Linked DNA regions of Homo sapiens. The protein of the gene in region 7 interacts with the protein of the main gene of each other region in a pairwise test. Each region holds a gene or a part of one and is shown on either strand. Other genes may lie near its edges. The genes, in order: MAP4K4, TUFT1, CCDC136, CCDC33, PAX4, TRIM48 and NME7.

What was found.
Region 1: the proteins of NME7 (region 7) and MAP4K4 interact in a two-hybrid assay, tested with the Homo sapiens proteins (one large-scale study listed by BioGRID and IntAct).
Region 2: the proteins of NME7 (region 7) and TUFT1 interact in a two-hybrid assay, tested with the Homo sapiens proteins (one large-scale study listed by BioGRID and IntAct).
Region 3: the proteins of NME7 (region 7) and CCDC136 interact in a two-hybrid assay, tested with the Homo sapiens proteins (one large-scale study listed by BioGRID).
Region 4: the proteins of NME7 (region 7) and CCDC33 interact in a two-hybrid assay, tested with the Homo sapiens proteins (one large-scale study listed by BioGRID).
Region 5: the proteins of NME7 (region 7) and PAX4 interact in a two-hybrid assay, tested with the Homo sapiens proteins (one large-scale study listed by BioGRID).
Region 6: the proteins of NME7 (region 7) and TRIM48 interact in binary tests that used the Homo sapiens proteins (3 or more experiments, as listed by UniProt).

Annotation. Positions count from the first base shown.
Region 1 is NC_000002.12:101,868,707-101,872,206, reverse strand, and holds part of MAP4K4 (mitogen-activated protein kinase kinase kinase kinase 4), read right to left. Parts: intron 2,586-3,500; coding exon 2,410-2,585; intron 1,913-2,409; coding exon 1,792-1,912; intron 714-1,791; coding exon 522-713; intron 1-521.
Region 2 is NC_000001.11:151,556,763-151,561,175, forward strand, and holds part of TUFT1 (tuftelin), read left to right. Parts: intron 1-646; exon of another isoform or gene 647-1,229; intron 1,230-4,413. UniProt on the Homo sapiens protein: Involved in the structural organization of the epidermis. Involved in the mineralization and structural organization of enamel.
Region 3 is NC_000007.14:128,819,299-128,823,543, reverse strand, and holds the end of CCDC136 (coiled-coil domain-containing protein 136), read right to left. Parts: coding exon of another isoform or gene 4,233-4,245; exon of another isoform or gene 2,500-4,232; intron 1,746-2,499; coding exon of another isoform or gene 1,454-1,745; 3' UTR 1,414-1,453; downstream 1-1,413. UniProt on the Homo sapiens protein: May play a role in acrosome formation in spermatogenesis and in fertilization.
Region 4 is NC_000015.10:74,329,730-74,333,800, reverse strand, and holds part of CCDC33 (coiled-coil domain-containing protein 33), read right to left. Parts: intron 3,613-4,071; coding exon 3,447-3,612; intron 3,139-3,446; coding exon 3,050-3,138; intron 2,821-3,049; coding exon 2,689-2,820; intron 2,599-2,688; coding exon 2,505-2,598; intron 1,123-2,504; coding exon 956-1,122; intron 581-955; coding exon of another isoform or gene 479-580; intron 1-478.
Region 5 is NC_000007.14:127,615,273-127,620,377, forward strand, and holds the start of PAX4 (paired box protein Pax-4), read right to left. Parts: upstream 2,871-5,105; 5' UTR 2,690-2,870; intron 2,129-2,689; 5' UTR 2,003-2,128; intron 756-2,002; 5' UTR 657-755; coding exon 644-656; intron 260-643; coding exon 129-259; intron 1-128.
Region 6 is NC_000011.10:55,260,347-55,265,389, forward strand, and holds the start of TRIM48 (E3 ubiquitin-protein ligase TRIM48), read left to right. Parts: upstream 1-1,808; 5' UTR 1,809-1,921; coding exon 1,922-1,965; intron 1,966-4,553; coding exon 4,554-4,968; intron 4,969-5,043. UniProt on the Homo sapiens protein: E3 ubiquitin-protein ligase which promotes K48-linked polyubiquitination of protein methyltransferase PRMT1, leading to PRMT1 degradation.
Region 7 is NC_000001.11:169,356,885-169,361,297, forward strand, and holds part of NME7 (nucleoside diphosphate kinase homolog 7), read right to left. Parts: intron 1-4,413. UniProt on the Homo sapiens protein: Possesses an intrinsic kinase activity. Displays 3'-5' exonuclease activity with a preference for single-stranded DNA. Does not seem to have nucleoside diphosphate kinase activity.

The DNA.
Region 1 (3,500 bases), on a different chromosome or scaffold from region 7:
AGAGTAATCAGCCAACAACCCACCCCCCAAACAAGAAAAAAAAAAAAAATCAGTTCTGTTTGAAAGAGATTCCTGTACAGGATAATAAGTTTGTCCAGATAAGGCCAAGCCTGCTGAACCGAATCTTCCTATATTTTATTTATTGGATAAAAAGAATGAAAAAGGCAGATTCCACAAATGACTATAAGAATTTCATGCCAAATACATAATACCGGTCTGAGGACAGAGCAATCATTTTATTTAGATTTTTAAAAAATAAACTAGATAAAGCCATGCAACTATACTTATCTACAGAACAGTAAACAGTGAACTGGCAAGTTTGGGGGAGCTGATCTAGGGTTAAGGGGTTTATATGCAGATCTGAAACATGTTACTTGGGGTTGGGGAGAAGGGTAGGTGACAGAGAAAGCAGGGTGGGAAGGGAAGGGGTGAGGGTGTTGGAAAGGTCTCCTTTGCAAACTAACTCCTAGGCAGTGCTGGTCTAACCCCAGGAAAGCAGCCAGCTGTGGTGCGAGACATACCTCATTAGCAGTGAGCTTGTCCTGGGGTGTCTGTGGGGACATGGTGGGTGTCGGCTGGCTGGAGGATGGGGAGGAGGAGGTGGAGGAAGTGGAGGAGGAATGGCTTTGCTGTAAGAGATCTGGCAAGAGGTGAATGCGACCGGCAAAGCCATTGCTCTCATGATGGCTGGCACGCTTTTGGTCAACTGTACTCTGTAGAAAAAACAGGCACACTTGTCTCGCTCAAGCGCTGCTAAAATTGCCTATGGCCCTATTGATAACTGCTTTAAGGTGCTGTGTGACTTATAAACTCTGCTAAATTACCAAGGAAAAACCAAAGAAATTAGCCTGAACTGCTCACACTTCCTCACCAAATGCCTAACTTGTGCCAACAGAATTCAAAGTACCTAATCTGGTGGCTGCACGGCTCGAGCAGTGAGTGTTTAATCTGGTTTATCTGTTGCGCTAGCTTCTGTTACCAAAACCAGTATCCTTTTTTTTTTCTTTTTAAATCTTTCTTTGCAAAGCTCCAGAAAGTACCTGTGGATTCTCTGAATCCTGGTCTTTTCCACATTCTTCCTACTTTCCATCCGAATGCATTGCCATAGCATGAAACACACTTAGGGCAAAGTCCAAAATACTAAATAGGTGCCCTGTTCTATTTAAATGAGAAGCGTATCACTTTAATTAAGTCTAAGCTAAGAAATGAACAGACAGTTATAAAGCTTAGTGATCCAAACTGAGCATATCTGGGTGGCACACATTTAATTATTCAACAAGTGAGAAAACTAACATTTTGGAACATAGAAGAGAAACCTCCCGAACCCTTCTGCTCTCCGAGTCTCTGGGCCTGTGATGAGGCTCGTCCTGCCTGCCTCACCCGCTCCCACTGTGGCACTGCAGACACTCAGAGCCCAGCGTGCTCTGCAGAGCCATGGTGGCTGCTCTGCCAGACTCCAGACCTGCTTCCTCACTCTGTGAGCCTGTTTAAGGACTCCCTGTGGCTTCTCTCCCGCTCAGACATAGACTGTGAGACTCAGCGCGGTGCTTGAATGAGGGCTGCCGCAGACATGCAGAGGAGCAGCGATGTGGGGTGGAGACTACTCGCTACCTTCTGGGCATGCAGTACACACCTGCCTCCCTAGCCCCCGACACTCGACACTTGACCCTCTGGGACTTGTTAACATGAAAACAGATGATGATGGAGAAACAGCATGAGTGAGTGAATGAGCAAGTGGGTTAATGACCACAGGAGAAGCTCAGCCTCTGACAACAGAGAAGACACGGGTACCTGGCGGACGATTAGAGTGCCCTCCTTGGATGGGGTCATGGCCGGCTCACTTTCTACATCATCATGGACAATCATGGTTTTCACAGATTCCGTTTCACCATTGCTCAAATTCAGAGATGACCTATGGAGAAAAAATCCAGACGTGAAAGGCCTTAATCTCTGGAGTCAAGGAGATCCTGTTTAGGCTTTTCGCCTTCTCAAAATCAAAACATGAGATGAGGCTACCGATATAAAGCCTCCTCCAAAAAAGCAACTGCTTAGCTTTCTCCCTTTAACAAAGAATTTCTTTCCAGTGCCATTTGTTTCTGAGCAAAAACTTAGAATGAATAATTATGGCTAATTAAAGTAGTTATACCAAACTGAAATTTCCCCTGGATCATATATCCTCAAATCAAAAGGAAAAAATAAAGTACACGCTGGGGTGCTGGGGGAAGCACTGACATATGCACACACCAACGAAGAGAAGGGGAAACACAAGGCGACCTGCTGCTGAATCCACGAGAACTACATAGTAAGTGCTCATGGGGTCACGGAATAGTCTAGGAACAACTAGGTCCCAGTGGAAAGCAGGCTCTGAGAGAATACTCTCATCCGCTCTAAAAGAGACCGGGGACTGACGCTGCTCTGGTGTCCTCTGGTCCTGAGGTGGACTCGTCAGCCCCTTCCTGCTCCACATCGTCGTCCTCCTCATCCGTCGTCCCCGACTCCTCACTGGATGAGGAGTAGTCCGTTACTTTGTGAGGTGGCCGTACATCTTCCACTGCTCGAAGCTCTTTGGCCAGTGCGGTCAGATCCTAAAGCAAAGGACAGAAAAGAGAGAGTAAGGCAAGCAGGAGCAGGGACAGGAGAAGATGAGAAGTTCTTTAACCATAAATTGCCACAATGTCAGTTTTGTAAGACTTTTATAGTTACCCAGTTTCATGAGAAAGTGAGCTCCTATGGCTTTTGATAGAAAAGACCAAATAAAGTCAAGAGAGAGATTAAAAAAAAAAAATAGAAGACACCAAAAAAAAGTCAAAGATGTCATATACAGTTCAAATCCCATGACAATAAAAAAAAGATCTGCTTATGTTAAGCTGATAGTATTACTGTTGTTTTTTAATATGAGGTAAAATTCTAGATCAACAAATGTATATACACAGACTCTTGGACTTTGTTGTAAGGAGATCTCCCTACATGACAAAGTCTTCTTTAGACTCATAAAAAAGGTTTTGAGAGACACATTTTTATTTTACTTCAACTTTTATTATTAAAAACTTCAAAGCGCTAAGGTTTAATATTTAATGTTTTTATTTACTAGTTATAGGATATTTATGAAATTTTAGTAATAAATATTAATATTTTACTAAAATCAACATTTTAGGTTTAATATTTTATTAATAAAAGTTGTAGAAACATAACTTCCCTCCCAAAACTCTTTAAATCAGGCTTATTTAACTAGAGGCTTGCTTTCTGGACTGACCCCTTTAAAGAAGACTTTGTCATATAGACATGTGTCTTTACACCAAAGCTCAAGGATCTGTGTATATACATTTGTTGATCTAGAATTTTACCTCATACTGAAAAAAAAAAAACTTCAAACCTACATTAAAATGAAAGGAGTGAAGTGAGCACTAGGATGCCACTGACATCTCACTTCACCGACTGTTCACAACCTGCCACATTCATGGACAAGTCTGTGACACATGAAGAGACACTGCGACCCTGAG
Region 2 (4,413 bases), about 18 Mb from region 7:
AGTTCGAGACCAGCCTGGCCAACATGGTGAAGCCCCCTCTATATTAACATATAAAAATTAGCCAGGCATTGTCACGGGAGCTTGTAATCCCAGTTCAGTTACGTGGGAGGCTGAGGTAGGAGAATTGCTTGAACCTGGGAGGCAGAGGTTGCAGTGAGCCGAGATTGCGTCACTGTACTCCAGCCTGGGTGACAGAAACAGAATTAGTCTCAAAAACCAAACAAAATGCTGAGATTACAGATGTGAGCTATGATGCCCGGTTCTGTTTTTCATTTATCTGTTTTCTTTTTCCTGCCTTCCTGTGGATTAACTGAACACTTTTTAGGATTCCATTTTTATTCATTTATAATGTTTTTGAGTGTTATCTCTTTGTATAGACTTTTTAGTGGTTACTCTAGGTATTATACATTATGTATACATAGGTTATCACAGTCTCCTGGTGTTGGCATTTTACTAGTTTGAGTGAAGAAGAGAAACCTTTCCTTCCTTTACATCCCTTTACCTTCTCCCATTTATGATACTAAATATTTAATAGTATAATATTATCATATTTAAATATTTTCTCTGCATACATTTAGAACCACATCAGACATTGTTATACTTTTTGCTTTAATCATCAAATGTAACTTAGAAAACCTAAGAGGGGCTTTCCAGCCCCAGCCCCGGCCCCTACAGCCACCGAGATGTTGATGCCTAAGAACCGGATTGCCATTTATGAACTCCTTTTTAAGGAGGGAGTCATGGTGGCCAAGAAGGATGTCCACATGCCTAAGCACCGGGAGCTGGCAGACAAGGATGTGCCCAATCTTCATGTCATGAAGGCCATGCAGCCTCTCAAGTCCCGAGGCTACGTGAAGGAACAGTTTGCCTGGAGACATTTCCACTGGTACGTTACCAATGAGGGCATCCAGTATCTCCGTGATTACCTTCATCTGCCCCGGAGATTGTGCCTGCCACTCTATGCTGCAGCCGTCCAGAGACTGGAAGTCCTCAGCCTAAAGGTCTGAAGGGTGAGCGACCTGCAAGACTCACAAGAGGGAAAGCGGACAGAGATAACCTACAGACGGAGTGCTGTGCCGCCTGGTGCCGACAGCAAAGCTGAGGCTGGGGCTGGGTCAGCAACCGAATTCCAGTTTAGAGGTGGATTTGGTTGAGGATGTGGTCAGCCACCTCAGTAAAATTGGAGAGGATTATTTTGCATTGAATAAACTTACAGCAAAAAAACTTAAAAAAAAAAAAAGAAAACCTAAGAGGGGAAGGAAATCTTGTTGTATTTACCCATCTTTTTTCAACTCATGTTTCTTTCTTCCCATTATTTCAAGTTTCCTTTTTTTAAAAAATAATTTCCTTTCTGTTTAGAGAACTTTTTAAGCCATTCTTTTAGTGTAGGTCTGCTGGTGAGAAATTCTCTTAGTTTTCCTTCATCTGAGAATGTCTTGATTTCCCCCTCATTTCTGAAGGATATTTTCCTTTGTTACAGGATATTTTCCTTTGTCAATTCTGAATTGACCGTTCTTCTCTTTCAGCATTTGAAAAATAGTATGCCACTTCCTTCTACTCTCTGTCATTTCCGAAGAGAAAATAACCTTTGAGGGATCCCCTCAAAGGTTATTTTCTCTGCTTTCAAGACTTTTTCTTTGTCTTTAGTTATCAGAAATTTAATTATGATCTATCATGGCATGAATTTCATGTTTATTCTGTTTGAAGTTTGCTTGGCTTCTTGAATCTATAGATTTGTGTCTTTTGCCAAATTTTGAAAATTTTTGGTCATTATTTCTTTGAGAACATTTTCAACTGACCCTCTTTCTCCTCTCTACCTGGAATTCTGATGGCTGGATGGAATCATCTCTCAGTGCCCCAACCCAGCCTAGTTGTCTATGCTCTTCCAATTGGAATGCGTAGGTTTATGAAACAGACCAGACTTGACCTTCATTAGCTAATAACCCCTTTGTTCTGACTGAAGGATGCCCTGCCTTTTCCCAGCCTGCCTCCATAGAACACTATGGGGAGATAGTGTCCTTTTTTTTTTTTTTTCTTTTTGAGACGGAGTCTTGCTCTGTTGCCCAGGCGGGAGTGCAGTGGTATGATCTTGGCTCCCTGGAACCTCCACCTCCTAGGTTCAAGCGATTCTCCTGCCTCAGCCTCCCTAGTAGCTGGGATTACAGGTGCCTGCCACCACAGCCAGCTGAGTTTTATATTTTCAGTAGAGACGGGGTTTCACCATGTTGGCCAGGCTGGTCTCAAACTCCTGACCTCAGGTGATCCACCCACCTTGGCCTCCTAAAGTGCTGGGTTTACAGGCATGAGCCACTGCCCCTGGTCGAGATACTGTTTTAATAAAAGTGCAGGTATGTCCTGGGAAGGAAGAATTTGGCAGCCATTCTGGCTATTTTGAAATCATTTCCTCTTTTTTCTTTTGTAATATTTTCTTGACCTAGATGTCATGGAGCATTCTCTGTGCATTCAGAAAATACCTTTGCTAAGGGCTGTGGCATACAACAGCTCTTGAGGAGTTAACAGAAGGGGTAATTCTTCACAAAACACAAATAACTGAGAGGCAGATGCCATGGGAGGCCTTGTGACGCTGTGGGAGCTCAAGGAGGGGAAGATGTGTTTCCCACAGGATGCGGGGTAGCATCTTGGAAGATGAGGCATTTGAACATGAACTTGAGGAACTTGGAGACGCCTTAGGTGAAAATGGGAAGAATAGATATTTAAGGCACAGGAAATGATGGGAGCAAAGGCACTGAAGTTGGAAACCATGGAATGTATTGGATAGGGCACTGAGAGATGGTAGCAAGAGGTGTGAGTTTACCCAGACTGTGGAAAGCCTTGCATGCCACTCTAAGGATGTGGCTTTTATTTCATAGGAATTAAGTGTTTTCATAAAACCAGCTACTTTGCTAGGGTTGGGAAGGTTTAAGGGCCATTGTGACAGTGTCTTCTGTCTTCCCAATCCAAAAAGTGGGAGGATGCTGATGTTTCAGTGCCACCCTCCTGTGTGGCAGAGAGTAACCTCCATACATTTTCTCATTTTCTTTTTCTTTTTGAGACAGCATCTCACTCTGTCGTCCAGGCTGGAGTGCAGTGGCGCGATCTCAGCTCACTTTAACCTCCGCCTCCCTGGTTCAAGCGATTCTCCTGCCTCAGTCTCCTGAGCAGCTGGGATTACAGGCGCCCACCACCACGCCTGGCTAATTTTTTTGTATTTTTGGTAGAGATGGGGTTTCACCATGTTGGCCAGGCTGGTCTCGAACTCCTGACCTCAGGTGATCCTCCCACCTCGGCCTCCCAAAGTGCTGGGATTACAGGCATGAGCCAGCACACCGGCAATATTTTTAAGTAATATTCAACAAAAAAACCCTCAGTTGGGGGCCGGGTGCGGTGGCTCACGCCTGTAATCCCAGCGCTTTGGGAGGCTGAGGCGGGAGGATCACAAAGTCAGGAGTTCGAGACCAGCCTGGCCAATGTGGCGAAACCCCGTCTCTACTAAAAATACAAAAATTAGCCAGGTGTGGTGGCAGATGCCTGTAATCCCAGCTACTTGGGAGGCTGAGGCAGGAGAATTGCTTGAGCCCAGGAGACGGAGGCTGCAGTGAGCCAAGATCGTGTCACTGCACTCCAGCCTGGGAGACAAGAGCAAGACTCCATCTCAAACAAACAAAAAACCCTCAGTTGGATGGTAATATACCCCTTTTACAGATAAAAACATCAAGAGTTAAGTATCTCACCAAAGACTGATTTCTTCTCCACCAAGTTGGAACGTTATCTTCTCTAGACATTTGGAAGGTTAAGAGGGTTCCTTAAAACCTGTTACCAGTAAGATGTCATTTATGCAGCTGGGCCTCAAGGCAGGGGATGACCAGATGACCTCAAGATCACTTTCATTCTTGGATAGCCCAGCACCTATTTCTCTTCATTGTCTGGGAGAGGCATATACTCCATCCTCACGCTGTCACAGAATGGAATCCAGAAGGAGCCTGAGATATACTTGGTCCAACTTCCTTATTTTTCCAGTGGGAACCAGAGATCCATAGTGGCTAAGCCCCTCATTCACTTCCATGCATAGTGCAGGTGATTTACTCTGCCTTGTTAGCCTTCTCTCAACGTTATCATCTTCCCAATCTACAGGCCCTTACTTTTCCCTCCTACCACGTTTTTCCTTTCAGGTTTTTAATTTTCCCTGCAAAGTATTGTGTGTGTGTGTGTGTGTGTGTGTGTGTGTGTGTGTGTGTGTGTGTGAGTGTTTGAGACGGAGTCTTGCTCTGTCACCCAGGCTGGAGTGCAGTGGCACAATCTTGGCTCACTACAAGCTCCGCCTCCCGGGTTCACGCCATTCTGCTGCCTCAGCCTCCCGAGTAGCTGGGACTACAGGCGCCTGCCACCACGCCAGGCTGATTTTGTTTTTGTATT
Region 3 (4,245 bases), on a different chromosome or scaffold from region 7:
GCTACCACAGTATACACTCTGTACATGTGTTTCTTTGGATGTTTGATTGAATGGAACAAAGTCCTTTTGGGTGGGAGGGAGGAAGAAAGAGGGGTCCAAAGAAAGCCAGGAGTCATGGGGTCATTGTTTCCACTATGGTTTAAGAATATGCTTGGGGCTGGGCAATATGCCTCATGCCTGTAATCCCAGCACTTTGGGCAGGCTGAGGCAGGAGGATTGCTTGAGCCCAGGAATTTGAGACCAGCCTGGGCAAAATGGTGAAACTCTGTCTCTACAGAAAATATAAAAATTAGCTGGGCATGGTGGTGTATGCCTGTGGTCCCAGCTACTTGGGAGGCTGAAGTGGGAGGCACTTGAGCTCAGGAGGTGGAGGTTGCAGTGAGCCAAGATGGTGCCACTGCACTCCAGCCTGGGTGACAGAGTGAGACCCTGTCTCAAAAAAAAAAAAAGAAAAAGAAAAAAAGAAAGAAATAAAAAGAATACGCTTGGGGTCTTCTTTCGTAAGGAAACATTCATGATGATAAACTCCAATCACAAAGGTTCCACAGGAATGAAGGTAAACAGGAACACACATAAACTATCCTCATCATTCTACTTGTCCCAATTAGATCCATCTTCAGGCCTCTGTCCTGCTCTAAGCTCCAGGAGGCTGAGCTTGAAAGATTACATCACCTGGGCACCTCTGCGCTTTGTCTTCCCATTGAGTTCAGCTGATAAGGTACCAGTAGAATACTGGCAGGTGGGAGGAGAAGGTAGGGGAATATATATCCCACTTCCTCACGGCTCTGGCGGGGGCTGCACCCCATGTGGCTGCCACTCCTGCCTGGGGCCCATTTTCAGAGCTCCAGCTCTTGCTTCCTTTCCTTCCTGCTTCAGCCTGGGATGCTAACAGCTTTACACTGTTGCTAGTGCCTGGTACTTCACTATTTTTTGTTGCTTCTCCTAACTCTGCCTTTGGTACATAGTCTCTTCATTAAACTCTCTTCATGTAAAGCTTTGAGTGTGCCACCTGTTTACTGCCAGGACCCTGGCTGATTAAAGTCATCTCTGAGGGCGAATCCCTTGAGAAGTCACAAAGGCTAAGTCACGAAGGCACACACGTGGATCTTCTTAGGGCGGCCTTCTCATGTAGATAGGTGTGGGCACAGAACCTTAGGGGAGGTCTCCCCAGCCCTCAGTCACTCCATTTCTCCATGCTCAGGAGAGCACCTCAGGATGGGGTTAATAAGCACAGACTAACCCCTCTGTGAGTCAGTCGACAGCACAAGGGGCTAGCCTCATTTCTGAGGCCATCTGCAAGGTGAGAAGCCGCATTTAGGAGTCAGACCCTTATGTGAGGTACTTGGTTAAAGGGGGACTGCTCTGTTCTGGTTGTGTTGTGAGGCATTTAGCAAATAAAAATCCACAGTCTCATGTAATTCAGTTGATATTTAATTACAAGGAACTCAGGTTCTTACACAAGGCAGGAGATGGAAGTCAGCCGCTCCCCACAAGCCTTTTCAGCCTGGGTGACTGAGGCTGAGGAGATGGGGACACATGGAACATATGGGGAGGGTTCTGGCACAGTGTGTCCTGCCCAAAGCTGAGGGTGGTGGCCACTGGGGATCTGCCCTCGCGCTGGCCAAGGTCTGCCATCACTCCATGAGGCAGAACTCTGACTCCTGCTGTCGCATGTTGGGTAACACATACAGAGCCACAGCTGCAATAGCCAAGAATACCATAGGCTTCCACAACCCAAACATGTTCTGTGGGGACCAAAGAGAAACTGTGAGTGCCCAGCCTCCTGAACCCTGCCCTAAGCCAGAAGTCACCTGCCTATGGGTGCCCAAGACACCTCAGGAACATTGTGGATCAGTCTCTGTTACCTCCTGGGTAACCGGTGGAGGTAAGTGATCTCTCAGTCCTGGCACCACTAGACATGTGGCCCAACACTGTACGCACCACCTTAGGTGACCGCCTGTATTCAGGCCTCCGTTTCTCCCCATGGGCTGAGAATACTAGCTCCCATGTGAAGAAGCAGGCTCAGGGGCCAGACTTCCAAGTGGTTGCAATGAGAAAGGACTGGATGCCATGGCAAGAAAGAGGAGGGGAAATCTGGGGCTTTGAGAAAAGCAGCAGCACCTCATTAGTTTCACTGCAGTGAAGTGAACTCAGAGTCAAGAGGATGGGGAAGGGGGAATAAGGCTGAGGGGAAATGAAGAAAGTGCACCACGGAGTGCAGGTAAGTAGGAGGTTCTTAGGCAGACAAACTTTGACAGAGAATGACATTGGTTCAAGGAAATTTAAGGAAACCTGTCACTGGGCCTAGGTCATTAGAACACTCCTAATCACCAGGTATGTTGACTGACTTCCTGGTGCATGTGCTAGAGTATGCTGAGGCTTCCAGACACTGCCGGCCACTAGGGAACCCTGCTGATTCATGGGACAAGTGGCACCATCGAAGATATCCAAAAAGCATCCATTAGGTAATATGAAAATCTTAGACAAGAAAATACATACTTGGGGAAATAGGTTTTATTTTTATTACTTTTTTACTCTACTAACTGAAAGGTAGAATTTGGATTTTGAGTCATAAGCTATGGCATAGGTAACAGAAGGATGGTTTCAAGTAAAAATGGAATATAGCCCATTAATGCTAAGAACACATTTTCTCAGATGATAATTGATCTAAAAAGAGGACTTTAAGCCTGCTAAAGAGCAAAGAAAATCTCCTGAGCTTATAGAAATAGCTACTAAGAACAACAGAAGGTATGAAATGGAAAGCCAAGCAATGTTACAGGTGGATATACAGAGTAACTCATGTAAGAAAACCAAGAGATCCGGAGGCTGAGGGAGGAGGATCGCTTGAGACCGGGAGTTCAAAGTTACAGTGAGCCATGATCATGCCGCTGCACTCTAGCCTCGGTGACAGAGCGAGACCCTGTCTCTAAAACCAAAAACAAAAACTAAGAAGGGAGCTAGCTAGAAAAAAATATTTATATGCTCAGATGCCTCTATCCTAATGTGCATTGCTAAGAATGTTAGTCTGGTGTTCTTAAAGGAGGGAGGAGCTGAAATCCTTAAATGTGACCCGTGCACCTCACACTGGGCAAAGGCAAGCTTCTACATGGGATGGGGAAAGGGCTGGTGTGGGTGTCCCAAAGGGGAAGTCGTGTCAAACTCTCCTTTTAAACTAGGTGACCTAAGTGACAAATCACCGGAATCATGTTTTTGGACGTTGAGTTGTTTGACAGAATTTTCTATGATCTTTGCAGATAATATGCAGAAATAAGGGTAGGATGACAGTACAGTTTGTTGAATGGCAGGTAAGTGACCAATGAGCTGAATAAAAGAACCCCAAGAGACGACACTCTAGAGGCTCTGTCCTCACTCTGTCCTCTGTAGATGAAGACAGGGAAGGAGGGCTTGCCACCCCTGTAGATGATGTGAAGGTGGCAGAGGAAGTGAATATTTTAAAACCACAGGGTCAAGATTAAAAACACATACACACAAAACCTTATAAGGTAAGAACAATGAACTATAATAGGGAAGAATGGAAAATTCTGCCTTTGAAGCCTCAAAATCAAATGCAGGTACAGAATGGGGAGAGGACGCTTAGCATACACAATCTGCAGAGGGGCTTATAAAAAATACATGAAATAAATAAATAATATATTAGTTACCTAAAGAGCTAATGTGATCTGAGGTTGCCTAAACACAAGTATGGTGTCTTCCTACTTGGGACCAATGAAGAGAAACTGCTCAAAATGAGGAGAGACAATAAAGGGAAGCAAGACTGGAATCTTATTTGTTGCTAATATTGAGTCCTTATAATCTGACTCGCAGCTTCCTGGCTGTTTTACTTAACTTCTCTATGCCTTAGTTTAATCATATATAAAAAAAAATAGGAGTAGCTTCTTCATGGGGTTGTTGCAAGGATTAAATCAGTTAATATACGTAAGTGATTAGAACAGTGCCTGACACATAAGACTGCATTTTGTAAGTGCGTGCTCTTTTTATTAATGATGGGGTATTTTATAATTTATAGAATACTTTCATCTACTTCAACCCATCTGGTCCTGACAAAAACCTGTGAGGAGGGCAGAGGTTCGATCATCCTTTGCTTACATTTGAAGAAACTAGAGCTCAGAGTGTGCATTTTGCTCCCTGGGACAACGCCTGTCAGTAGAGACAGACTCAACCAAGTTCTTCTGACCGCCTGGCAGCCACGCTTTCTACCACACTGTGCTCCCTCAGGTCCTGGCT
Region 4 (4,071 bases), on a different chromosome or scaffold from region 7:
GGAAGAAACCAGTCAGGCCTGAGTTCAGACTGAGCTCCCGAGGCAGAGCGTCAGACCTGGGCCGAACCCTCTTCTGGAAGTTCAGAACAGGGTCTGGCATGTGCTTTTTTCACAGCTGTTTCCCACACAGATTTTGAGAATACGAAGTTTTGACACAACATTTTTTTTAATGTAAAATGCATTAGGGAGCCCCCTATAATTAACGCACTGGGAGTCTTTGAGTGAAGTGAAGAACCTGTGAGGCAGTTGACCTCATCCCTCACACTTTACCTGGATGTCCATGAGTCAGGTGTGCTTTCAACAGAACTCACCTCCGGCGAGTCCTGGGATGGAGAGAAAACTCTCCTGTGCCCCTGCCCTGCCCAATATTCTGTGATTCCAAATGTTCTGCTTTGGGGTTTATGTAAAGCAAGGGGCCCCTGAAGCATCTTCAGAGGTGGAGCAGGGCCTGGGCATTTCTGGGCCCTGGGCCACCCACCTGTGCGGGCAGGGTCTCTGTGCACTCTGAGTGGCCTGGGCCATGCGTCTCTTGTAGCCTCTCTGTCAAGTCTCCTCCTGCTCCCAACTCCCCGGGGTCCACCTGGGATGGAAAAGGGCTCTCCAAGGCTGCACCAAGACCAGGGAATGCTCCAGAAGGGAGTTTTGAGAGGCCTGTGTAGGGTCCAGGTGGAGGCCAGCCAGGTGAAAAAGGGGTCAGGGTTCAGGGACCAAGGGTCAACAAGGGGCTTGCTTTCTCCTGGGATGCTAGATGAGGTTAAAGGTGAAGTGTTCGGGGACACACATTCCGCAGGAGAAAAAGACCAAGGCCTGAGAGCTGATTCCAGGAGCCCCCAGGCAGACTGGAGACCCTGGGAAGCTTAGCTCCTGGTCTTGATCTTCAACTTGGGTTGTACCATGGGTGATTTCTGGGCACCCAGTGACCGGCATAGGCAGGCCCAGGTCAAGGGCCTCTTACCGGCAGGGCCTGTTGCTGCAGAATGATGGGGGCCTGCTGGTGGCGGTTCTTATCCAGCTCCGTCCGCAGCTTCGCGTTTTCTGCCAGCAGCACCGAGTAAAGTTCAACCGGCAGGTTCTCTCCCATAGAACCCAAGGGAAGGCCAGAGGCTGAGAGCATAGGGAAGCCTAGAGACACGGCCACAGATGTTGGTGAGATGGGCTCTCCTGCTTCCCATGTCCCTGTCCTGATCTGCTCCAGCATTTTGCTTCAATCTGCCACCCCTCCCCTCTACTCCCAAGCCTTCAATGGCTCCCTACCACCAGTGGGATCAGGTGCACACAGGCTGTCCTTCTAGGCTCTTTAGAACCTGACCTCAACGTTCTCTCTAACTCCTCATTTGTCTTCAGTGTATTTCAGCTCCTCACCTCTCTCTCTTCCTCCCTTCTCTGATCCTGGAATTCTTCTCACTCCCTGGGCCTTTGATCTGGCTGTTTCCCCTCCCTAGGTTGCCTTCTCAGTCTCATCCAGACTCCTGGATGACCTCAGGCTTCCTGAAAGGCCAGCCCAGCTTTCATTGCATTCTAAAGGCTCCTAGAAACACCCTCCTGCCCCTGAGACCCTCAGCGGTGAAGGCTAAGCACAGGGCTGGGCACACAGGGGCCCTGGGTGAGGTTGCACAGGCAGGCTCAGGGAAATCCCTTGCTTTGGGCTGGCCTGATATGGTGTTACCTGGTCCTTTCTGCTTATCAGAGGCTGATTGGCAGTTTTAGGTGGCTTTTGGTTAATATCGATGGGGAAGAAAACCTCCAAATCATTTATTTATTTATTTATTTTGAGGCGGAGTCTCCCTCTGTCACCCAGGCCGGAGTACAGTGGCACAATCTTGGCTCACAGCAACCTCTGCCTCCTGGGCTCAAGTGATTCTCCTGCCTCAGCCTCCCAAGTAGCTGGGATTATAGGTGCCCGCCACCATGCCCAGCTAATTTTTGTATTTTTAGTAGAGATGGGGTTTCACCATGTTGGCCAGGCTGGTCTTGAACTCCTGACCTCAAGTGATCTGCCCTCCTCGGCCTCCCAAAGTGCTGGGATTACAGGCATGAACCATTGCGCCTGGCCCCAGATCATTGATTTAATCAAAGTATTTTTGTTTGTTTGCTTTGCAGAGGCAGAATCTTTGGCGGTATGGGGAAATAATTCGACGGATCCTGGGGCTAGGAGCTGGGAAGTGTTGCCCCAGGTGGCCCTTCTTCAGGGGAAGGCCCTCTCTGCTGTGCTAGTCTGCAGGGCCCTCCTCTGGAGGTCCACCCTCTTTCTAGCCTGGCTCACACTGCATCCCAATTGTGTTCTGAGGGGCTTCCAGGGAAGGAGGGAGCTCAGGGGATCTCTGGATGGGGCGCCTGAATGAGGAGGGGAGCAGGGCAATCCTGGGTCTCCCAGGCCCACAGACATAACTGAGTGCAGGGGACCTCTTCGCAGGTTCTCCTGAAGCTGAGAGGCTCCAGGAAGGCAGGGCCTCCAGGGGTGGAGCAGAAGCTGGGGAGCTGATCACATCAGGGTGTGGACCCACCCGTGTAGGGCTTTCCCTGCTGCCTGTTCAGAGGAGGGGGCTTGCTCCTGTCCTGCAGCCTGTCCTCCAGCACCCGCTCCATCTTCTCGATCACCTGGAGAGCAGAGCAGAGGCTGGGCTGGCCCAGGGGCTCCCTACTCTGCCATCATCAGTTGGCCTCGGGGGCAGCCCCTCTGCCACCTGCCTTCTCTTGGTGCCGCACAGTCTCCTCCAGCGCCTTCATCTTCTGCAGCTTGCCCTGGTACTGCTTCAGCAGAGCGGCCTGTGGCTGCTGGGCCTGATACAGAAGGAGCAGCTCCTTCTCTCGATCATTCTTCTGTGAGATGGGGGAGGAGAGAAGGGGAGAGAATGGGTGCCTGGGAGTCCACCTTGGCCCTGAGGGTCCACCTCGGCCCCTCTGCTGAATCCTCCACCAGGCTGGTCCCCCTTTCTTCCGTGCTTCCATTCCCTCTGTGCCTGTTCTCCCTTCTCCTCCCAGACTCTTCTCACCCCGATGCTCCCCCACCATAGCTCCCTCCCCTCTGCCCCCACAAGCCCCAGCTCACTCGAATCAGCTCATTCTGCAAATGCTGCACCCTGTCCCTCAGTTTCTTCATATCCAGCTCACTCAGCAGCAGTTTCTGCTTCATGGACACTGTTAGGTGGGTTGGGGAGCTGGCTCAGGGAGGAAGCCTCTCCCAGCTCAAATCAGCATGGTCAGTAGCAGGAAGGCAGATATCCCTTGGCCCGAGGGCTTGGGACGGGACTGGATTCTCTGTTTCCCATCCCTGAGAGGACCCAGCTGGGCAGGGACTGTGTGAGTGTCTGTGGGCGAGGGGCTCCTATTTGCCAGAGTCCAGCAGCATGCACATCTGGGAGAAGCTCCCAGCCACCCTATTGCACAACCTGGAGCCTGGGCCCAGGCAGAAGCCCGGGTGCCCTTGGTGGCCTGCACATCCTCACCCGTGTTCTGGGCCTCACTGGCTTTGCCCTGCCCCTCTTCCTCCTCCTGCTGGGCCAGGCGGCTCCTCAGTATGCGGTTCTCTCCTTCCAGGATGCTGGCCTGTCTCCGCAGAGACAGGATGTCCTCTGCCATCTTCTGCATGGCCCGCCGGTAGTTGTTCATCTCCTGTGGATCCCAGAGCCCAGAGCTGAGCCCACTGCCCCATAGCAACCCTGGTCCCACATCCACATCTACACTTGAAAGTCAGTGGGTCCCCCACAAGGCCAGTGAGCACCAGGAGCCCCAAGCCATGGCCCTAAGTCTTAGCAGCTCCCTGGAAGGGTGGTTATGACTTGATCCTCACCCATCCTGGCCATGTGAGGGCAGCCACACTAATGTTCTCTCCCCGGGGCCACATCACGTCCTGTGATACCAACTCAGGGGGAAACCCCAGGTGTGGACACAGGGGAGGAGGCCTATGGGCAATGGAGACTTGAGAAGATCCAGGGCCAGGTTTGCAGGGTCTGGCTCGATCATAGCTATTTCTTCACCTTTTCCCTCCTCCTTCCCCATCTTCTAACTCCTCTCATTCCTCACGTCACTGAGAACCCAGGGAAGAACCTCTCAGAAATCCCACTGGATGCC
Region 5 (5,105 bases), on a different chromosome or scaffold from region 7:
TCTCCCAGGAAGTGACCCAAGTCCCAGAAGCCCTCAGAGCCTGCAACAGCCCCAGGCTCTTGCCTTCAGAGGAGCCCTTTCTCCCTGCTTCCTGTCCCCATCACTGGGTAAAGGTGCTGGCCCATTACCTTAAGGATCCGTGAGATGTCACAGGGCCGCATTCCACTGACTGCTAGCCGCACAATCTGCTGCCGGGTATCCAGAGGCAGGGGCCGGCCATTCACAAAGAGCCCCCCAAGCTGGTTCATGCTGCTGATCCCTGGGCGTGAGACAGAGGTATCCACACACCACCTCTCCCACTGCCCTGCCCGCCTGTGGAGAGGGTCACTCAGGCCCCTCCAGCCTGGCTTCCCACCACCGAGTGCATCCTCTCCTGGGAGACTGCATCCTTGCTGCCCCCAGGCTGTCAACGCAAGCTGCTTTCTTTGAGAGCTGGCTCACGGGTGAGTCTTTGTTCCTTGCCCATACCCGCCAACTCTCCTGATCTAAGGGAAGCAGGACAGGGCAGGAAGGGAGGGACTGGAAAAAGCTTCCCCAGAACATTGGCCAATAGCAGATGAAACAGTTGATGGAAGCAAAGCCCTGAGGTCTTCCCCTGTCTCTGTTGTCCTCCCTGTCTTCCCACTTCCCCCAGGCTCCTCACCGTCCTGATGCATGCTCCAGGCTGACCCTCCTCAGAAGGATGAGACTCCAGCTGGGAAGGCTGGGAAGGGAAGTTCCTTCTAGGAGCTCCTTTTCCAGCTTGGGGGCTGGCTCTGCAATAATGGGGGGTTATTTGGGTGAGGTCTTTTGCTTGAAATGGTCCTGGGAGGTAGTGTTTTGTGATAGAGGGTCAGGTTCCTAAAATTTGCCAGTGGGTTGGCTAAAATCAGAAAATTCTAATTCCTTTTATTTAAACCTTTGTGTGATAAAAACTAAAACACTGCAGGTTGGCTGAGGACTGGATCTTTCTTGAAGTCCTGATAAGGGGCTGGGAGGATTGAGAGGGTTCTCCTTTCCTACACATTCATTAGAAAAGTTTGGGGAGGTAGAAAGGGATAATGCTTTCAAATGCTCAAGCTTTCCCCTTTCCAAATGGACAGCTGTTGTCTCCAGCTGCTCCTAAGCCTTCTCAGCCCTGGAAGACACACCCGAGCCAGAGATTCTGGGGTCCTCAAGTTCAGGGGTCCACCTTCACTATTAGGCAGTCCTCGGTTGGGCTCTCCAAACTGCCACCCAAATGCTGCACTTCAGAAAGGCTTGCTCCTGTTTTTTTATACTCTCCAGGAAGCTCTAGGGAAACTGGGACTCAGCTCTAACCCACCAGGCATTGAGGCTCTGGTCCTACACACTGGGCATAGAGATGAACACGCCTGAAGAGCCGGCTTCTCCTAGGAGACGCATCTCTTAGCATCTCTAACCTGCTGAGATTGTTCATTCTGTTCATTCTCTGAAGAGTTCTAGATCTCACAGTGAAGCTTCAATTTCAGAGACGATGTTTCTGGTATCAGACACTCATTCATTCAACTAACATTTATCAAAGGCATATTGAAGGGAATGAGAAGCAGGAGAAGACTGTCCGCTGAGCAACATAGAAACCGTCATGAGCCCAAGCGAGTCTCTGAGCAGCAAGGGACACAGGTCCCACAGGCCACCATACCTCTTCTACTTTCATTAGTAATCAATGGGAGTTGAAGATGCCTCCTTTCATGCCTGGAACCCTGGTAGTGCTGGAGATCACCCCAAGGAACAGCTTATGCACAGAACTTTCTTATAATAAGCGTGCCATCTGGGCTTAGTTAATTCATCTGCAGTTGTATGCTGAATAAGATATTAAGCATGAGCACATTGCTGGTTGTTCAGGATGAAGGCAGTAAACAGAAAAGGGTAAAGTCTTTGCTCTCCAACACATTACAGAGCAACTGGAGAAAAGAGACTAGCACCAGTGAAACAAAGAATTACAAAGAGTTTGGAATCCAGAGTCTACTTATTAAGTTCAGTCGCTAAATTGGCTTTTACTCACTTGTTTCTAGGTAGGTAGAGGCACAGACCCCTTCAAATTCTCATCTTTCCAAAAAGTCGGGAAAGAAGGCAGAGGTTTTCCAAAGAGAAAACTGAGGCACAGATTGGCATTGCCACAAGTCAGGGGCTGTCCAGAGAGTAAAATTCAAGGTTTAGAAGCCAGTTCCTCATCAGAAGCTACAATTTCTGGCTCCTAATCCTGGGCTCTCTTTCTCTGCTCCCACCCCTGTTTCATGTTTGTGTAATTGCCACAAAAACAATGGAGAGAGGAGAATCAAGCAGGGACTGTAAAGGGCTGTGCCAAGACAGGGTGAAGGAGCTCAAAATATCAGCCAAACCCTAAATCCTTGATGGGACTCAGTTCTCCTAAGTGACCAGAATTCAAAAGAGCAGTAGGGATGCAGGTTCAGTATCCAAACCTAAATAATCTCCAAACCTAAATCATTATGCCCCAACTCACAAACAGAAACCCCATTCCCAATAGCCACAACACACATTCCCAACATTCATATTAACATGTCTGAAAAAATAACTGGTGCTTGCAAGATGGAAAAACAGGAAAGGGGGTGGAAGGGGCAGGAGGGTTGTAGCTGCAAAGGCAGAGTGGGAGAGAAGTTGGGTTTGGCCACACAGAGGCATGGAGACAGCATGAGAGGCAGGGCAGACAATGAGCCTGCAGGTGAGCTACCTGTGTGGAGGAAATGAGGTGGGAGCTTCAGTGGGAGGTCTCAGCTTCTGAGACCCCTGCAGGCTCCAGGGGTGGTGATGATCTGGTCTTGGTAACAGCCTCCACTCTGCTCCTGCTTCAGTCCTGCCAGGGGGTCCAGAGCTATAGAGAGCCCGTGCTCAAGAGCAGAGGGCAGCCTTCTGGGAGTAGCCAGTGATGTCACAGGCCATGAGCAGAGGAGAGAGGAGGAGGGAGGTGTGCATGGGCTGACTGACACCAGCCCTGAGGCAGGGCAAACCACAGCCAATGACCCACTGTGTCCTTCCATGGGGAATCCTCAGAGCCCACTTTGTGTCCACCTACCACCCGGAAGCAGGGACAGAGCCATTCTCAGACAGGCAAAAGTGTACCCACACAAGCACCAGTACTCCTGAAGGGCATGCTGAGCATGGAAGATGGGGAACTTCAGGTTGTGTTCTTAAGGCTTTGAATACACAGAAGCAAAAAGATGCCTTCCCGAACCACCAACACAGCTTCCCAGCCAGAATGCACATACATGGGCTTTGGGGTCAACTCCTGAGTCGTGTGTGTTGCTATAAAAGATAAATGAGTATACAGACTGTTGCCTAAATACTGACTGAGTTGGCTCCTAGCACTCTGAGATAATGAGAGTGAATGGAGAAGAGTGTGAAGAGTGTGTGTCACCTAGCACCAGCTGTCCCCAGAGAGTGTCCTAACCAATTCTCCAATTGACTCCTTGACTGAGGTGACACCAAGGGTGAATTCTTGCCTGGAAATGGAAGGATCCTGGACTTCAGAACACTGACAATGGTAGTGGTGGTGGAAATGAGCCTCAGGATAGTCAGAGATGCATGTGGGTGTTTATAAGGAGGCTTGCAGCAGGATTTTCCTTCTTCCATCTTTAGATGTTAGCAGGCTCCATTCTGTTAGGGATTTGATGCTTTTAGACTCTAAGTTAGTAATGGCACTGCTGTTTCCACAAAAGACACCACAGGTTATCTGGGTCATTGGCGAGGTCAGAGGTATCAGTAGCTGGGCAGGTGGTGCCTGTGGAGTGGGATGCTGAAAGTGAAACACAGCCTCTAGTGCATGTAAATTTTGTTGCCAGTCATCAGGGTCTTGGGCAGATGGTCTTTGGGTCCATTCCACACCTCAGAGTCTGTGAAACCATTGCAAAAGTTAGACTGGAAGTAAGCAGGGTGTAGGGCAATAAGACTAGTCCCAGAAATCAGAGAATGGAAGACGTATGTCATTGGTAAATGTTTTGAGGTTTTGGGGGTGAAAGTGGTTGTTGTGCATTCAGCTTGATCCTAGGGTTGGGAACTCTTGCTCTCAAAGGCCAAATATCACATAAGTGAGTTTTCCACTTTACCCTGATACATACTCTCTTCCTCTTCCACCCTCCTCCAGCATCCTCAGACTGGTCTTGGGGTACAGGGGAGACTGCAGAGGGTGATTTCAGGACCTCGGGCAGGATAGCATTTGCCCAAGTGTCCTTACAGCCCATTCCATCCCCGGGGCAGCTGGGGACTGCTGGTCACTCTACTTAGCCATGCTTGGGTGGGAGGAGGTCCCCAGTAAGGCCTGTGGTAGCCCTGCTCCTAGTCCCCCATTCCTGCCTCATCCCTCCCCGCTAGATCTGCCCCTGCGTCTAGGGGCTCAAGGCTTATGTCCTGACCAGCTATTCCTATAGACAGCTGCATGAGGGTGGAGATAGGGGTATCAGGGGGAGCAGGGACAAGCCCTAGCAGATGGTGGTGGCAGCGATTTACCCCATAAACTACCCTCTCCCTCCGCCTTTATGACGCGCTCTTGGGTCTGAACAAACAGAGGCTTTCGACCCAGAGGTGATGGGGGAGGGAAAAGTGGTAAAGGGCCCTGGCAGGGGGGCCTAGAGAGCCCAAAGGCTCTGCCACTCAGCCCTCTGCCCAGCGCGCTAGACTGTTTGAGGAGCAAATATCTGCCTTCACTGTCTGACTCTCTCAGCCACCCCCACCGGGTTTGGGGCTAATTGTCCCTCATTAGCTGGGCCCAGGCCCCGGGCTGCCGCCAGCCCCCGCCATCTGCTCACAATTATACATTAACTCAAAGGTCTTGCCACCCGCCAACAAGCTGTGCGCCCCTCTCCGGGGCCAGCCATGGCCATTCCAGCCTGTCCCTCGCCCTGATGTAGAGCCCTGATCTCCGGCTTCTTCTGCCCTTAGGAGTCCCTGGTAGAAAGGCCCGTGTCTGTAGGGAAGTCTTGTCCTCAGGAAAGGCGGCTGGAGTTCCCCTGCCTTCCTCAAGGGACCAGAGGGCGAGCCAAGCCCGTGCGTAAAGCTGGAGAGGACTGGGCGCGGCCAGCGCAGAGACCCGCTGGCGTTGGTCTGACACCTCGTCTTGGGCTCTTGACACCTGCTGTGGGAGGTAACACCAG
Region 6 (5,043 bases), on a different chromosome or scaffold from region 7:
GGCTGTGCTGCTGCAGCCAACTGTCTGGCCCCTGAGCATTACATCCCCGTACTCCAGGCCTTTATTCATCACCAAAACAGCATGGTACTGGTATAAAAATAGGCACATAGACCAGTGGAACAGAATAGAGAACCCAGAAATGAACCCAAATACTTACAACCAACTGATCTTTGACAAAGCAAACAAAAACATAAAGTAGGGAGAGGACACCCTATTCAACAAATGGTGCTGGGATCATTGGCAAGCCACATGTAGGAGAATGAAACTGGACTGTGTGGCATAGACAAACTTTCTTATTATTATTCAATGAAACACTCACGTAGGACCTACTGGGAAGGTATTTTGCAGAGGTAATGAAAGGTCCTGCTCTTGTAACTAGCAAGTGTATTCAGGTAAGCCTGACTTCATCAGTGAAAGTCCCTTAAAGAAAGACATAGGCATTCCTTGAACAACATTTAAAATAGCGAATGGGACTGTAATCTTCCAATTGCCCCCTACTGACTTGGGACCAAAGCTTTGAATCATGATCACTGGGATCCAGCCAGCTGAGGATTTTTCTTCCTAACTGACTTTAACAGGGATCTCATACTTGCTCAGGCATCCCATCAACTGTGGAAACCAGTTCCTTGCACTTAATTCATATGTGAATCTCCCTAAGTATACATATATATTATGGGTTCTGCTTCGATTTTTGAACCTTGACAGACTTTTTGAACCTCGACAGACATAGGGCTGACAGATTTGTCTTCACTGTTCTGAAACTCTTGAATATAAGTCTTGTGGGGGCTATTGGCAAAGAATTCCTCTGTCAGAATATATTTGAGTAGCCGCTTCTGAAATCTCTTTTCTTTTTTAAATTGTCACATGACAACAAAAATATTTGTTATAGAAAGAAAAATATAATCCATCCCTATCGTTTGGATTCTGTATTTGTGAATTAGCCTACGTCCTAAAACTTGTTTATAATCCCCAAATTAATTACTATATTGCATTTCTAGTCATGGCAGAACATCATGCACCATGTGGAGAAAAGCATTAAAATAATAACTCGTATTTCACCCACGAGATTGGCAAAGTTTTGTAAATTCAATAAGAGACCTCAAATTAGTAGAGTTATTTGGTTAGTCAGTGATTTCTCTTAGAGTGGTAGAAAACAAAAAAAAAAGTTTTACCTTCCTGTTGGACTTCTCTTCCAATATCCTATAAATGTACTAAAGCAGCATTTAAGGCTGGACGAGGTGGTTTATGCCTGTACTCCCAAGCACTTTGGAAGTCCAAGACCAGAGGATCACTTGAAGACAGGAGTTGGAGAACAGCCTGGGCTACAGAGCCATACCCTGACTCTATGAAAAGTTTTTAAAAAAATTAGCCAGGTGGGATGATTTGAGCCTGTAGTCCTAGCTACTTGGGAGGCTGAAGAAGGAGGATCCCTTGAGCCTTGGAATTCAAGGCTGCAGTGAGCTATGATTATACCACTGCACTCCACAAGGAGACAGTTTCTCTAGAATAAATAAATGTGCCCTTAAAGGAATGCCTGTATCTTGGATGAAGCTCAATAAACAGTATAAAATGCATCTTATTTAATTTGCAGTGTATGTCAAATCTGATAGGATTTATGTTACATATGATTCATTTCAGTCATGGTTTTTTAAGGAGTGATGATAATTTAATCAGCCGTGCAAAGGTGTGATCTAAATACTGCATAAACCTAATCATCTTATTCTCAACCTTTCTCAATACTCCACCCACTTAAAGAGGTGGGTGTGGTCTTCACAGATTCTTATAAAGGACATAGAAGAGACAAGCTCAGTTTTCTCCAAAGGAGAAGGAGTGCACTTAGAGGGAGCTGTGTTTTGGTGACCTCTGAAACTCAGTACTGCAGCGAATGAGCTCCTGACCTTGAGGAGTACTTAACAGAATTATGTCTCGAAGAATCATTGTGGGAACCCTTCAAAGAACCCAGCGGTGAGTGAAACTTATATTGATAAAATTATATCTTCTTTCCTTTACAAAATAATAAATTAGAGTGTTAAAAATATCTCATTATCTTAAATCTACACAATGATACCATCTGTAATTCATATTCTTACTATAGATTTTATGAATTATGAGGATATTAATTGTTGTTATTTTGCATTTTCTATCATTCTTCAATATAGTTTTGAAAAAATGAAAATATCTAGTGTTTGCTGCAACAGATATGTATGCATAATGAATATATGGAGTTGATATTTATACATGTATGTACACATAGGTGTGTGTAAATATATGTGTAATGAGTGTATTAATATTATACAATTGAATTGAGAAGACATTAATGAATGTTCATTCATTCATTCAGCATTTACACATAACTTTAAATTAGTAAGGTAATGATGAGAGATGAAAAATAGTGAAACTGAAAAAAATGAGAAAGCTCCCCAAAACATCCCAGTTTGGAAATCAAAACACAATTTTTTGACCAAATAAATATATGATATAATTTGATATGTGATGGTGGTTGCCATCTCACTTGAGTTTTAATCTTATTAAACTATGAAAAATTCCTTACAATGACTTAGATGACCTCTGGAGAATATTTACAATTCTAAGATTTTTCATTGCTTTCACTAAAATTCAGCAGCGTTATCAAATAAAGGAGAGTAACGAAAAGGACTTAAAATTGCCAAAGACCATAGTTTATATATTAGTCAGGGCTCTCCAGACAGACAGAATCATAGGGTGTATATGTATACATGTAGAGATACATTCATGAGCCATTTCAGTCAACAACAAACCACACATGGTGGTCACATAAGATTATAATACCAGTATGTTTACTGCACCTTTTCTGTATTTAAATGTTTACATACTAAATAATTACCACTGTGTTACAATTGCCTAGAGTATACAGTATAGAACACGCTGTACAGTTTTGTAGTCTAGGAGCAATAGGCTGTACTGTATACCATAGGTTTGTAGCAGGCTATACCATCTAGGTTTGTAAAGGTAGATTCTATCATGTCAAAACAATAAAACAATAAAACCTAGGCGCAGTGACTCATGCCTGTAATCCCAGCACTTTTGGAGGCCGTGGCAGGCAGATCACTTGAGGCCGGGAGTTCAAGTCCAGCCTGGCCAACATGGCGAAACCTCATCTCTACTGGAAAAAAAAAAAATGAAAAAATTTGCCGGGTGTAGTGGCATGTTCCTATAATCCCAGGAACTCAGGAGGCTAAGGCAGGAGACTCGCTTTGACCCAGGAGGTGGAGGTTGCAGTGAGCCGAGATTGCACCACTGCACTCCAGCCTGGGTGACACAGTGAGTCCCCACCTCAGAAAGTAAATAAATAAAGCCTCCTTACACATTTCTTAGAACATATATCTGTCCTCAAGCTACACATGATTCTACACGAGGGGAATTCATCAGGAAAATTCGTTTGCTTGATTATGGAGTCTGAGCAGTTCCAAATATAGGCTGTCTTTAAGCTGATGTAGTGAGGATACTGGTATCTTGACTGATCTCAAGGCTGAAAGCCTCAGAACCAGCTTCAGGAGAAAGAAAGAGGAAATTGCCTTTCCTCTGGCCTTTTCCTTTTATCTGAGCTACAAGCTGATTGAATGGTACCCACTCAAACTGAGGGATGATGGTCCCACTCAGCTCACCAACTCACATGTCTCTCTCCTCCGGAAACACCTTCACAGACCCACCCAGAAACAATGCTGCACCATTTCCCTGGGTGTTGGTTAATCCAGTCAGACTGATACCTAAAATTCACCATCACACCATGGAAATATAATTACACCTCTTTAAGTTTAACAAAAATCCTACTATATGTTAGTTCAGAGTTTGGGTATCCCTAGGAGAAGTTAATTCAATCCAAGAGAAAATAAAAAGGTCCGATATCTTTAATGATTTTTTCTCTTCTATTCAACCTAAATTGGTTTAATTGCTGTTTTTTATTTGTTTATTTGGTTGGTTGATTGGTTTTTCTATTTCGCTTTGGATTTGGTTTTTTATTTTACTTTAATTTTATATTATTTTCAGTCCTGAGATAAACGTGCAGGACATGCAGGCTTGTTACACAGGTAAACATGTGCCATGGTGGTTTGCTGCCCCACTGTTGTGTCTCTCTCTCAAAATATATCATAGGACCCTCTAGCCATCTTCTCGTATTTCTTTGGCCAAGACAGTTTTTCCCACTCTTTCACACTCATTCGGCAGTCATATGAAAGAAGAATAGGAACAACTACAATTTATTCTAGGCTACTTAGAATCAAACCCAATTTCCAGATCCACATTCAGAAAAAAATGGGAAATTGAATAGATTAGTATTATGTTACAGACAGGCACTAGGAGTAGAAGGGGTTGTGAGGCATCTAGTCAGTAATATCTATTATAAAGCCGGGAGACTCTCTGTGTGAGATTTTTATTTTTGTTACAGAAGAAATAGTTTGTTGTGCTTTAATGAACACTGTCAAGAGAAGAAACTATAGCTATCACTTATCTCCACATGTTCAGAAGCTTTTCATCAACCCAGACCCCAAAATGACATGCTGCTCTTTCTTCCTCAGAAACATGAATTCTGGAATCTCGCAAGTCTTCCAGAGGGAACTCACCTGCCCCATCTGCATGAACTACTTCATAGACCCGGTCACCATAGACTGTGGGCACAGCTTTTGCAGGCCCTGTTTCTACCTCAACTGGCAAGACATCCCAATTCTTACTCAGTGCTTTGAATGCATAAAGACAATACAGCAGAGAAACCTCAAAACTAACATTCGATTGAAGAAGATGGCTTCCCTTGCCAGAAAAGCCAGTCTCTGGCTATTCCTGAGCTCTGAGGAGCAAATGTGTGGCATTCACAGGGAGACAAAGAAGATGTTCTGTGAAGTGGACAGGAGCCTGCTCTGTTTGCTGTGCTCCAGCTCTCAGGAGCACCGGTATCACAGACACTGTCCCGCTGAGTGGGCTGCTGAGGAACACTGGGTAAGTGATGCCTCTGAAGATCTATTTCTATAAAGGACACATGAAATTCCTGTGGCCCTATTTTCTTGGAGATTG
Region 7 (4,413 bases):
AAGCTCAGTGAATGAAAAATTGCAGAGAAAAAGCAGTAAAGTCAACTAATCTTGTTTTTAATTAGCGTTCTTTCAGTCATTAGCCTCTCTTCTGTGTTCCCACATTCAGTAGGTCTCTATCTTAACACTTGGAAATAACAACAGCAGTAGTAACAGTAATAACAGCAAACATTTTTTGGATGCTTACAGTGTATAAAGCATTGGGCTAAACAGTTTATCATTTAATTATAATAATATCCCTATAAGGGAACTAGTATTATTATTATTATTATTATCCTCATTTTACAAATGAAGAAATTGAATTTCTCTAAGTTAGTATTACAATGTTACAGTGTATCATGTATTTCTCTTCTTCTCTTTTTTCTTCCTCCAAGACTGTGAGCTTTTTAAAAAAGAAATCTAGTCTTGTTCATCTTTGTATCTCATATATATAGCATGTTGCAAGAACCCAAAAGTGGGCAGAAAGATGAGTTCAAGAGCCTCTGCTCTATATCTGAATATAAATGCTTATTATGTCAAGTTTGATTCTAGAAGTGTTCTAATAATGCATGCCACAACCTAGGTGTTAAGGGTATTGGGAGACAAGATAAAATCATCAGGCCAATACTAATTTTTATGTGGAAATGCTAGAAAAAGTGATCATAATATTATAGAAGCCATTCATTCTTTGCATAAAAACTTGAACATTTTTAATTATGAAAAATATTCAGATATCTAAGATAGACAGATATTCACCTTTTAGAGATCTCAGTGCATGCAGTAAAATCCAATAAGGTACCTAAAAGGCAATATGGTTTAACATAAATGATAAAACTGTACTTGCCACTAGATGAAGGGATTTTCAGTTTTTCCAGAGCCGAATTTCTGAGTCTAAGTGGCAAGAAACAGACTGGGTCTGAACGGTCTCATTGTACTTTCACAGTCAAATTACTGAATAATAAAATCTCACATGACCAGCAATAAAAGTAAATGTTCCCAGCTAATCCATTTAAATTGAGTAGATATTCAGGGATCTCACACCTAATACCTGCTAAATACATATCACACATGTTTAGCTGCCCCTATCCACAAAAGTATATGACCATTATTGAAACTGGTCTCAAGACCAATCTCTGCCATTTCCCTCCCTTTTACCAGCTTTTTCTTATTTCCATTAGGAAAATGAATCTATAAGAGAAATTTAGGAAGAGGGAATTTAATATATAAAAGTAAATTTTTCAATAGCCACAAAATTGCATAACACCATTAACCTCAAATATTTATTTTTGAAGGTTGATATTTTAATCTCTTCCATTTTCCTCAACTATCTTCTCATTAGGCAGCAATCTGGTTAATATGAAAATAACACATTTCATATGTATATTACAGTTTATAAATTACTTTCATATTAACTTATTTGATCTTCACAAAAAATGCTTTAAGGTAATCTAAACAGAAAGTATTATTTTGATTTTATGGATGAGAAAATAACTATCCAAAAAGATTACATAACACACAGCTCATAAGTGCTTAAGCCAGGACTGGAATAAAGACTGAAATTTTAGATTTCTAGCTCTACATCAGTTTGTTTGTACTTCAACAAGCTACATCTTGAAAATAAGTACACAAGAGAGGACTGGAAAATCTGTCTACAAATAATAGTTAAAAAAAGGCCAACTTAATATTCTTCACTACAGTCAGACAATAAACCTTGAATTTTAACAATTTATAATAGATGTAAAACAATAATTACAAAGAAATATTGTAGGTAAGTATTAACAGTGCCTTTCATCTATAGAACATACAGTAATTTATATTTCTCTCAATATTCTGAGCAAAGCAGGTGACAGTTTTATTAAAAGTTCAAATCTATTGTTAGACATATGTATGTAATGTATAGAAATACCAGTTTAGAGTTTAGAAGAAACAGGCACCATGGTATACTGCTAGCAGAGTATTCACTGGCAAAACTATTTTGGGAGTAGTCTGGCAATGTATATTGAAAGCCTAAAAATGCACATGACCTCTCGCACCTAGTTATTTCCTTTTTAATTTATTGTAAGGAAATAATTATGGATGTCTATAAAAATGTGTTCGCAAAAATATGTTAGTATTGTGTTAACAGAACAAATTAATAAATGGATTGGTTAAATCAGAGTAAATGAAAGAATAAAACGTAGAGCTGTCCCTCAGTATTTGCAGGGGATTGGTTCCAGGACTCCTACAGATACCAGAATCCTTAGACGCTCAAGTCCCTTACATACAATGATATAGCATTTGCATATAACCTATGCATATCCTCCAGTATATTTTAATTCATCTCTAAATTACTTACAACACGTAATACAATGCAAATGCTATGTAAATACTTGTTATAGTGCTTTGTTTTTATTTGTATTTTTTATCATTGTATTGTTATTTTTTTTTTTCAAATATTTTCAATCCTCAATTGGTTGAATCTGGATGCAGAACCCATGGCTACCCAGGGCTGGCTGTAGTTCTTAAAACTGATCTGGAAAAATGCAAAAGATATATTAAGTGGGATAAAACAGATTTCTAAACAATGAATATAATAGAATCATATTTTAAAGGATATGTATCTCTGTGTGTGTGTGTATATATGTATGAGTATATATGTGACCAGGATATTACACAAAAATATTAATAGCGATTGTATACAGGCAGTGTTATTATAGATAAATGTAATTTTATTACTTTTACTTTTATATTTTCTCATTTCTAAAAATGACTAAGTAATTTTCCTATATTTCTACAACAGAATAAGTTAAATATCTTTATAAACATATATAAAACATATATAGCATATATATGTATCATGTAAATATTGAAACTATGGAAAACAAAGGATAAAAGTTGAATTTACATCTATCAGAGAGCTCTAGAGCCATTATGTGTGCATATGAAGATACATTTTAAAGAGTATAGAAATATGAAGAAGGCACAGCACATAAGATGAGTCAGGAGAGAGAACAACAGCAACTTATTAAGGCAAAGTGTCCAGTATCAGAAAATAAATGTGAATTAAGCAGTACATTTTAATAGCTACAGTTTCTCACATCTAATTAACAGAAAGTTTTAAATATTGACAACTTTGGAAGTGAAGAAGTTTAGGCAGTTTTTGAAAAAAATGTGAATACAAAGTTCATTGGGAATGCTGGAGATACTTCTGGAAAGTAAGATACTTCAATCATATGCTATAGCAGCATCAAGAAAGGTACTAGGTGAAGATCACAGCAGCAAACATAACTCCCATGTTGAAACTATAATGCATACCCATCTGGAATATGTAGCTCTGCTCGCCACACCTTAGAGTAGATATTATAGAAACAAAAAATAAGTCCAGAAATGGGAAAATAAATTATGAAATGGCAACTATAAGGGATGAAATTAGGAGTCTCTGAAGTTCAAAGACAAAAGAAGCTCAGAAAAATATTTCCCAAAGCTTATAAGATCATAAATTTTACAGATAAGATAAAAATAAGCACCAAGAGACCAAATTAATATGGCAAAAGTTTAAGGCAAATCCAAGGAAAATAAAATATTTTGATGGAATAGGTAAAATATATAAGATGTATAATACTACTGCATTTAGAATAAAATCCAAAATCCCTCCCAAGTTCCATAAGTCTCAGTATTCCTGGCTCCTTCCTGCCTCTCAGATCTCTTCTCCTCCAGCTGTCCTCTCATTCCCTAGGCCCCAGCCACACTATCTCCCTCCTGTTCCTCTAATGCACCTCTGTGCTCACTATTGACTCTGCCTGGAATGCTCTTCTCCTAGGTTTCACCTGGCAAGCTGCTTTCTATCATTGACATCTCAGCTTAAAAGTCACATCCTCATGAGGACCGTCCCTGATTGTCCTACTCAAGGCTACTTGCTCTTGGAACCAACCAATATTGCATTACTTAGTTTAATTTTCCTCATAGTACTTATCATCATATGAGGTCATCATTCGTTTATTTATTCATGTAAACTGTTTTTCTCTCAAACTAAGGAAAAAAACAATTAAAGAGTTTTATCATCAAAGAGACTTTCCCTCACCACCCCAGGCTAGTTCAGATCACTCTATTTTATTACTAACTTCCACCTCACCTTGTCATTTTTCTTTTGTAATCCAACTTATACTTGTAATTTATTTTCCAATATCTGTTTTTCTCCATAAATTCCATGAGTTAGGGGCCACTGTGTGCTATCTTATTAATCAATGTATACCCACCAGTTACCAGTATATGGAAAGTACTCAATAAATACTTTCTCGAATAGAAGAATAACTGGTGAATGAGAAAGAATTGGGAATAAAAAGGCAGAAAAAGGAAAGCAAAAATAAATAAAAAGCTACATGAAAAAAATTATGGCATTATATTAACCACTTACTATTCCGTTCTCCAAATACCACTGTTTCCTACTAAACAAGA